Homo sapiens: one gene and its partner. The protein of the gene in region 1 interacts with the protein of each later gene in a pairwise test. Each region holds a gene or a part of one and is shown in the gene's direction. Other genes may lie near its edges.

What was found. The genes of interacting proteins can lie anywhere in the genome.
Region 2: the proteins of ITSN2 (region 1) and RNF20 interact in a two-hybrid assay, tested with the Homo sapiens proteins (one large-scale study listed by BioGRID).

The regions. Positions count from the first base shown.
Region 1 is NC_000002.12:24,297,831-24,301,727, reverse strand, and holds part of ITSN2 (intersectin-2), read left to right. Parts: intron 1-488; coding exon 489-574; intron 575-1,556; coding exon 1,557-1,819; intron 1,820-2,913; coding exon 2,914-3,063; intron 3,064-3,897.
Region 2 is NC_000009.12:101,540,306-101,544,202, forward strand, and holds part of RNF20 (E3 ubiquitin-protein ligase BRE1A), read left to right. Parts: coding exon 1-65; intron 66-184; coding exon 185-332; intron 333-487; coding exon 488-670; intron 671-3,897. UniProt on the Homo sapiens protein: Component of the RNF20/40 E3 ubiquitin-protein ligase complex that mediates monoubiquitination of 'Lys-120' of histone H2B (H2BK120ub1).

The DNA.
Region 1 (3,897 bases):
ATAGTGAGACCCCGTATCTACAAAAATAAAAATAATTAGCCAGGTGTGGTGGTGTGCGCCTGTAGTCCTAGGTACTCTGGAAGCTGGGGCAGGAGGATCACTGGAGCATAGAAGTTCAAGGCTACAGTAAGTTGTGATTATGCCACAGCACTCTAGCCTGGGCAGCAGAGCAAGACCCTGCCTCAAAAAAAAAAAAAAAAAGAAGTGGATGTGTTTTCATTATGTTATACATAAGGAGGCTAATGACTAAAGAGATAAAGAAAAACTTGCCCAAGAACCAAAATTAGCTGAACTGTGATTTGAATCCAGATTTCTCTGTCTTGAATATCCATATACTACTGTATTTTGTAACGACATACCAAACTGTTTTAAATATCTTTAATACTGTATTCCCAATATCAAATTGCCATAATCACTGGTAGTCTGTGTAATCTAGTCTGAAAATGTCCAGACTACATGATGCTAACTTTGTTGTTTGATTTTTTTAGAGGAGGAAAGCAAATTGATTCCATTAATGGAACTCTGCCTTCATATCAGAAAATGCAAGAAGAGGAGCCTCAGAAGAAATTACCAGGTATCACTGAGTGTCAAAGTTGTATATTTATACTGAGTTCTTTTAAATTCTACCTTTAAATGTAATGGAATATTTAGAATTTTTATATTTTTAATATTTGATGTGCTATATGAGAAAAAACTATTTGATAGATGGGATGTATTTTGGTATTGATAAAATTAAGATGGTCAAAATGAGAAGAGTGTGAAGGAAGAAGAGACAGTTAGATGTATTTGACAGGATTATAGACATCTGAGTTAAAGTATTTCTCCTAATTTAGGCTGAGTTATTAGAGGAAACTTTGTAATGAAATCTTTACCTTTAAAAACATTTAAATATTGGTTGAAAGAATACATTTGTAGCTGTTTTAATATATTAGGATGTTAATGACATCAAAACAAATGTATAACCACACAGCTTTGATTGTCCTTGAAGAAGAGAAAAAAGTTGAAAAAGTTTTTTTTTTTTTTCCTTGTTGCCCAGGCTGGAGTGCAACAGCACAATCCCGGCTCACTGCAACTTCCGCCTCCTGGGTTCAAGCGATTCTCCTGTCTCAGCCTCCTGAGTAGCTGGGATTACAGGTGCCTGCCACTATGCCTGGCTAATTTTTGGTATTTTTAGTAGAGATGGGGTTTCACCGTGTTGGCCAGGCCGGTCTTGAACTGCTGACCTCAGGTGATCCGCCCACCTTGGCCTCCCAAAGTGTTGGGATTACAGGCATGAGCCACCACACCCAACCGAAAAAGTATTTTTATTGGCAAGTTTATAAAAATTATTTCTCTCTTGATTGGATTCAAACTTAAAAATTTGTTTTTCTAAAATTGAATATCCTTGAAGAAAGTAGATATTTTTCCACTTAGATTTGAGTTAAAATTATCCTTAGGAGAAGTATTCAAATACTGATAGCACTCAAATGATCACAAGGCATAAGTATATAGAAACTAGATTACAGGTTCTGTAGGCTGTTAATGTGTGTGGATGCTGATAGGCATACCTTGTTCAGTTACTTTTGAGGACAAACGGAAAGCCAACTATGAGCGAGGGAACATGGAGCTGGAAAAGCGACGCCAAGCCTTGATGGAGCAGCAACAAAGGGAGGCAGAACGTAAAGCCCAGAAAGAAAAGGAAGAGTGGGAACGAAAACAGAGAGAATTACAAGAACAAGAATGGAAGAAACAACTTGAATTAGAAAAACGCTTAGAGAAGCAACGGGAATTGGAGAGACAACGAGAGGAAGAAAGGAGAAAAGACATAGAAAGACGAGAGGTTATTTTTAAGTTTTTTACTTCTTAAGAAAATCATTACATTTAATAAGTGACTATATTTCATTTGATTAAAAAATGCTTATTTTTGAATTTTTGTTTTGCCTTTTGCTCTGCATCATTTCATTCTTACCCTATACAAATCTGATCATTCCTTCCCTTGAGGAGGGAAAGAGGCTTCTTGCTTATAAGGAGTTTTCAGAACTGGTACGTGGTAGAGAAAGCATCCTCTGCAGGTGATATCTCAATCAAAGGAGGATCGACTGCAGAGCTAAGTTGAGTGAGGAGCTAAGGTTAGTTAGGCAACTGAGCAAGTCATTAGACGAAAGCAAGTTTAAGATCCAGATTAAGAGTCCAAGGAATTGGAGAGACAGAAAGATGAGAGCTGGGCATTGAAAGTCTCTCTAGAGAGGAATCAAGAGGATGGGCTTGCACAGGCCTTTGGGATAGTGTTGCTGGGAAAGAAGGGTCCTTAGGAGGACTGGCTGTGTTTTAAAGGGCCAGGGATGGAGCACAGGAAGTTATTGCACACTGAAATAATATAAATAGAATTTTTCCCCCAGATACCAGAATAGAGGGAAAATTATTCCTGTTAACATTTATATTTATGAAGTCATTCTGTAACTTATTAAGAGAAAAATGACTGTAACAAAAGGATGGTCTTCCAACCTGGGCAACATGGTGAAACCCTCTCTCTACAAAAAGTACAAAAATTAGCCAGGTGTGTGGTGGTGTGTGCCTGTAATCCCAGCTACTTGGTGGGGCTGAGGCAGGAGAATCGCTTGAGCCCAGGTGGTGGAGGTTGCAGTGAGCCAAGGTGGTGCCACTGCACTCCAGCCTGGGTGACAGAGCAAGATGCTGTCTGGAAAAAAAAAAAAAAAAAAAAGATCTCGTGAAGAAATGAGAAAATATGATAGATGAAGCCACTTTCTTGGAAGTCTTTAAGCCCATTAATAAAACTAGATTTGCCTAGCTACCCTTAGGCACTAAAGCCACTAAGTGCTAAACTCTGCCTGACTTTTATTGTTGTCTTCCCAGTTTTTGAATCGTGCAAAATTTTTGATTTAAAAATTAAGTATAATTCCTTTTTTTTTTCAGGCAGCAAAACAGGAACTTGAACGACAACGTCGCTTAGAATGGGAGAGAATTCGGCGACAGGAGCTTCTCAATCAAAAGAATAGAGAACAAGAAGAAATTGTCAGGTTAAACTCTAAAAAGAAGAATCTTCATCTTGAGTTGGAAGCACTGGTATGGCTGAAGTTTAAGTGAAATTTATCTGAATGATGATGGAGCTACCTGTTGAAAAATGTAATTGTGGGCCAGGCGTGGTGGCTCACACCTGTTATCCTAGCACTTTGGGAGGCCAAGGCAGGCAGATCAACTGGGGCAGGAGTTTGAAACCAGCCTGGCCAACATGGTGAAACCCCATCTCTACTAAAAAAAAAAATTAGCCAGCTGTGGGCTGGGCATGGTGGCTCACTGTAATCCCAACGCTTTGGGAGGCTGAGGTGGGTGGATCACGAGGTCAGGAGTTCAAGACCAGCCTGGCCAATATAGTGAAACCCCATCTCTACTAAAAATACAAAAATTAGCCAGGAGTGGTGGTGTGCGCCTGTAGTCCCAGCTACTTGGGACACTGAGGCAGAAGAATTGCTTGAACCTGGGAGGCGGAGGTTGCAGTGAGCTGAGATCGCGCCACTGCACTCGAGCCTGGGCAACAGAGTGAGACTCCGTCTCAAACAAACAAACAAAAATTAGCTGGCCGTGGTGGGTGGTGGTGGGTGCCTGTAATCCTAGCTACTTGGGAGGCTGAGGCAGGAGAATCACTTGAACCCAGGAGGTGGAGGTTGCAGTGAGCCAAGATCGCACCACTGCACTCCAGCCTAGGTAACAGAGTGAGACGCCATCTCAAAAAAAAAAAAAAGAAAAATGTAATTGTGTTTTAAAATCTCTCGTGAATTAGTTATGTCTTAATGTCATTAGTCACATTTTCATATAAACAGACTGTACAATATGGTTTACTGAGAAAAGGATAATGACTCAAAATGCTGAGAATTATGTTGTAGCATCAGTTCAGACACT
Region 2 (3,897 bases), on another chromosome or scaffold:
AACTGGAACGACGACAGGCCACTGATGATGCCTCACTATTGATTGTCAACCGATACTGGAGTCAGGTAGCTAACTTGTTTATTTGTTCAGATTTTTATTTGACCAATTTAGTTCTCCTTACTGTTCTCTTCATTTCCAAAGTTGTGTCCTTTGTTTCTTCATAATTGTACCTACCCTTCTCCAGTTTGATGAAAACATCCGTATCATCCTTAAACGTTATGATCTGGAGCAGGGCTTGGGAGACCTACTCACAGAACGAAAAGCCCTTGTTGTGCCTGAACCAGAACCAGACTCTGATAGCAATCAGGAGCGTAAAGATGACCGAGAGAGAGGCAAGTGTTCGTGATGGATTCTATCACTGCATGCTATCTGGGTTTTTAAAGTAGAGCTCTGCTTTGAGGCTTTCCATTTGAGGGAAAAAAAATGGATTTTGTTATTTCCAGTTTATAATTTTGGGGGGCTTCTTTTTTTCCCCCTGTGTCCTCAGGGGAAGGGCAAGAGCCAGCTTTCTCTTTCCTTGCTACTTTGGCCAGCAGTTCCAGTGAAGAGATGGAGTCTCAGCTGCAGGAACGTGTGGAGTCTTCCCGCCGAGCCGTGTCCCAGATTGTGACTGTTTATGATAAATTGCAAGAAAAAGTGGAGCTCTTATCCCGGAAGCTAAACAGTGGAGGTGAGGCAAGACCCTGGAGGCCGGGAGTAGTGGAGGAGGAATAAGAATTCATTTTTGCATGCTAATTTGTAGTTTGCAAGCTTACATATTTATTTTTATTTATTTATTATTTACTTTTTAAGAGATAAGGTTTCACTGTGTCACCCAGGCTGGAACACAGTGGCACCATCATAGCCCATTGAATCCTCGAACTCAAGCAATCTTTCTGCCTCAGCTTCCGAATAGCTAGGACTATAGGCACGTACTACCACACCTGGCTAATATTTTAACCTTTTTGTAGAGAGGAAGTCTTGCTATGTTGCCCAGGCTGGTCTCAAACTTGGCCTCAAGAGATCCTCTCTTCTGGCCTCCCAAAGTGTTAGGATTACAGGCATGAGCCACTGTGCCTGGACTATATATTTTAATTAAATTTTTAGAAATTCTAACCTTCAGTGTTACTGGTAATGTCTTCATTATGGCATATTAATCTTTTATCAGTGCTTCTCATTTTGAGCCACATGACAGTCCTTTAATAAGCTGAGGAAAGAGTTTATCAGCTCTATACTGATATACTCTATTAATGACAGTTTTGTAAATAGCAGAATTAACTTTATTATTTAATAAACAGCTCTAATATCTGGATCTGTTTATCGTGTATGTAGGCTATTGATTTATAGTGATAATACTTTATTTTAAATAACAACTATATTATTTAATTATTAGTTACAGAATTTTGACTTGAAAAAGTTAATTTTTACTTAACTTATTTTTCATTATCGCTAATGTTTTTAAAAAGAGTTGGTGCAGGTTTTAGAGTTGACAGATGATCTGTATGGTTAAAAGGATTATTAGAAAATATTCTATGGATGAAAGAGTATTTGAAATAAAATAATTATTTGGGATAATTGTGTTACTCAGAGTTAATGCAAAAATTTAAATTTGTACAGTAAAGTATTTGTGTAGCTAGGTTACATCTTTAGTCATTTGTGGCATAAATACCTTGCTCAAATGCAAAAAAAATGCCTTGATTTCATGTTTTCAATAATAATCATGGTCTAGTTGTAATATCTTAATTTCCCTGCTTATCATTAAGATGTTTAACCTTTCATTTCTGAAGGAAATAAGTTGAATGTAATGGAGGTTGAACCATTGGATGAGCATATAAGAATTGTATTATTCTGTAATTTTGCTTTTAAGGGTAATTGGGCTAAGTTGTCAACAGAATTAAGCAGCTTGTAGAAGGCCTGTGAAAATTTGGTCACGGGTTTCTTTTGCTTTTCCATTAGATTATGCATTTCTGTATTTTATTATAAGGAAAACAGATACTTGTTTAAAAATATACAAGTCAGAAATACAAATAAGTAGACTACAAAAGTTTCCCCATTCTCATTTCTCAAAAGATAACCATTCTAAACAATGTGTTTTATGTCCTCTCAGACTTTTGTACTTTTGTATTAATATCTTACATCTACTTGCATGTCCCCAGCTAAACTGTGTCTTGGTTCAGTAGTTTGGCTCACTCTTCTTTGTTTCTCTAGTTTCTAGCACTGCATCTGGCATCTAGCAGATGTTTAGTCAATGGGGAATGAATGGATGTGAACCTCCCTGTCACCTAATATAAAATAATGGTGCTTTGTGTGTGCACATATGCTTCTTTCTCCTTGGGCTCTAATTGAATAGTTAGAAGGTATTGTTAAATTTTAGTAATATGGTAATTAATATGCCATGTGCATAGACTATGTTAAACTTGATTTCATAAATGAATATCAAGTGAAACAATTGTTTTATTTAAAAAGGGAATAAAATGAGTAGTATATCAAACGACTTTAAAATTACTATTTAATGGCATGCATTTTAAGGTCGGGTTTAAGTTAAAAAGTAGAAACATTACAAATAGCCATGCCATTATTTGTAACACAAAAGGCAATTGCCATTGGTAAGCTGAACTTTCTAAGAGATAAAGATGTATAAAGTATGAATTATAGCATCAGTTGTAACTTGTTTGAAAGTTCATCCCCCTGACTTAGACTGAAAATTGACATTCCTCAAATTCCTAGGACATCATCAATACAGTAGTTTCTACTTCCCCATTCCCTGTGGAATTTCTACCACGCCATTCCTCAATAACACTATACAGTCTTTTATATTTAGGGTAATTCATTATTTGGAGGTTTGGAGTTGTGTTGTGTTTTACAAAATCCCCTATGATATGATAGGCCTTCTAGAGTAAGGTAAGGCCTTCTAGAGCAAGTATAGGCCTTATAGAGTAAGGTCTATAAATTCATCTAACCCTGCCAGAGCGGCACTGTCTAACCTGCCACGGCAGTACTGTCTAACCGTGCCAGGGCGGCACTGTCTAACCCTTCCAGGGCGGCACTGTCTAACCCTTCCAGGGCGGCACTGTCTAACCCTGCCAGGGCGGCACTGTCTAACCTGCCAGAGCGGCACTGTCTAACCTGCCAGAGCGGCACTGTCTAACTCTGCCAGGGCGGCACTGTCTAACCTGCCAAGGCAGCACTGTCTAACCCTGCCAGGGTGGCACTGTCTAACCCTGCCACTGCAGTACTGTCCAACCCTGCCAGAGCGGAACTGTCTAACCTGCCAGGGCGGCACTGTCTAACCTGCCAGAGCGGCACTGTCTAACCCTGCCAGGGCGGCACTGTCTAACCTGCCAGGGCAGTACTGTCTGTTTGTTTGGTCTTTGATTCAAAAGAATTGCATTTATGGGCTTGTTTATAAATTCACTAAACATTTATTGAATTTTATTGTATTCTAGCCCTGTCCTCAGTGCTTAGGATATTGAGAGGACTAAAATTCAGTCTCTACTTCTTAACTCAGGTTATGAATCAGAATAACCTTGGGAGTTTTCTGAGCATATTCTTATTTTTGGCTTTGCCCATGGAGGTTCTTATTAAGTAGGTATGAGATAGGTCCTAGGGAAATGTCTATTTTAAAAGTTCCACAAGTGATTCTGATGGGCAAGCCTAGCTTGAAAACCATGAAAACCACCATATGACCAACCTGTTCTGTATTGATACTAAGAGTAATGCCAAGAGGTGATATGAGAAAGCATATTTTTCTTCCTGATAACTCTCTTTGATGGGTGGTATATATCCTGAGAGTATCTGGTTTCATTTAATTACATTTGGATTTCAGCTATAGTATTTGCAACTCTAATTTTAAACATACGAACTTGGTGTAATAAGTTCTATGGATTTACCTACCTGCTTTGTAAATAGTAGTGTACA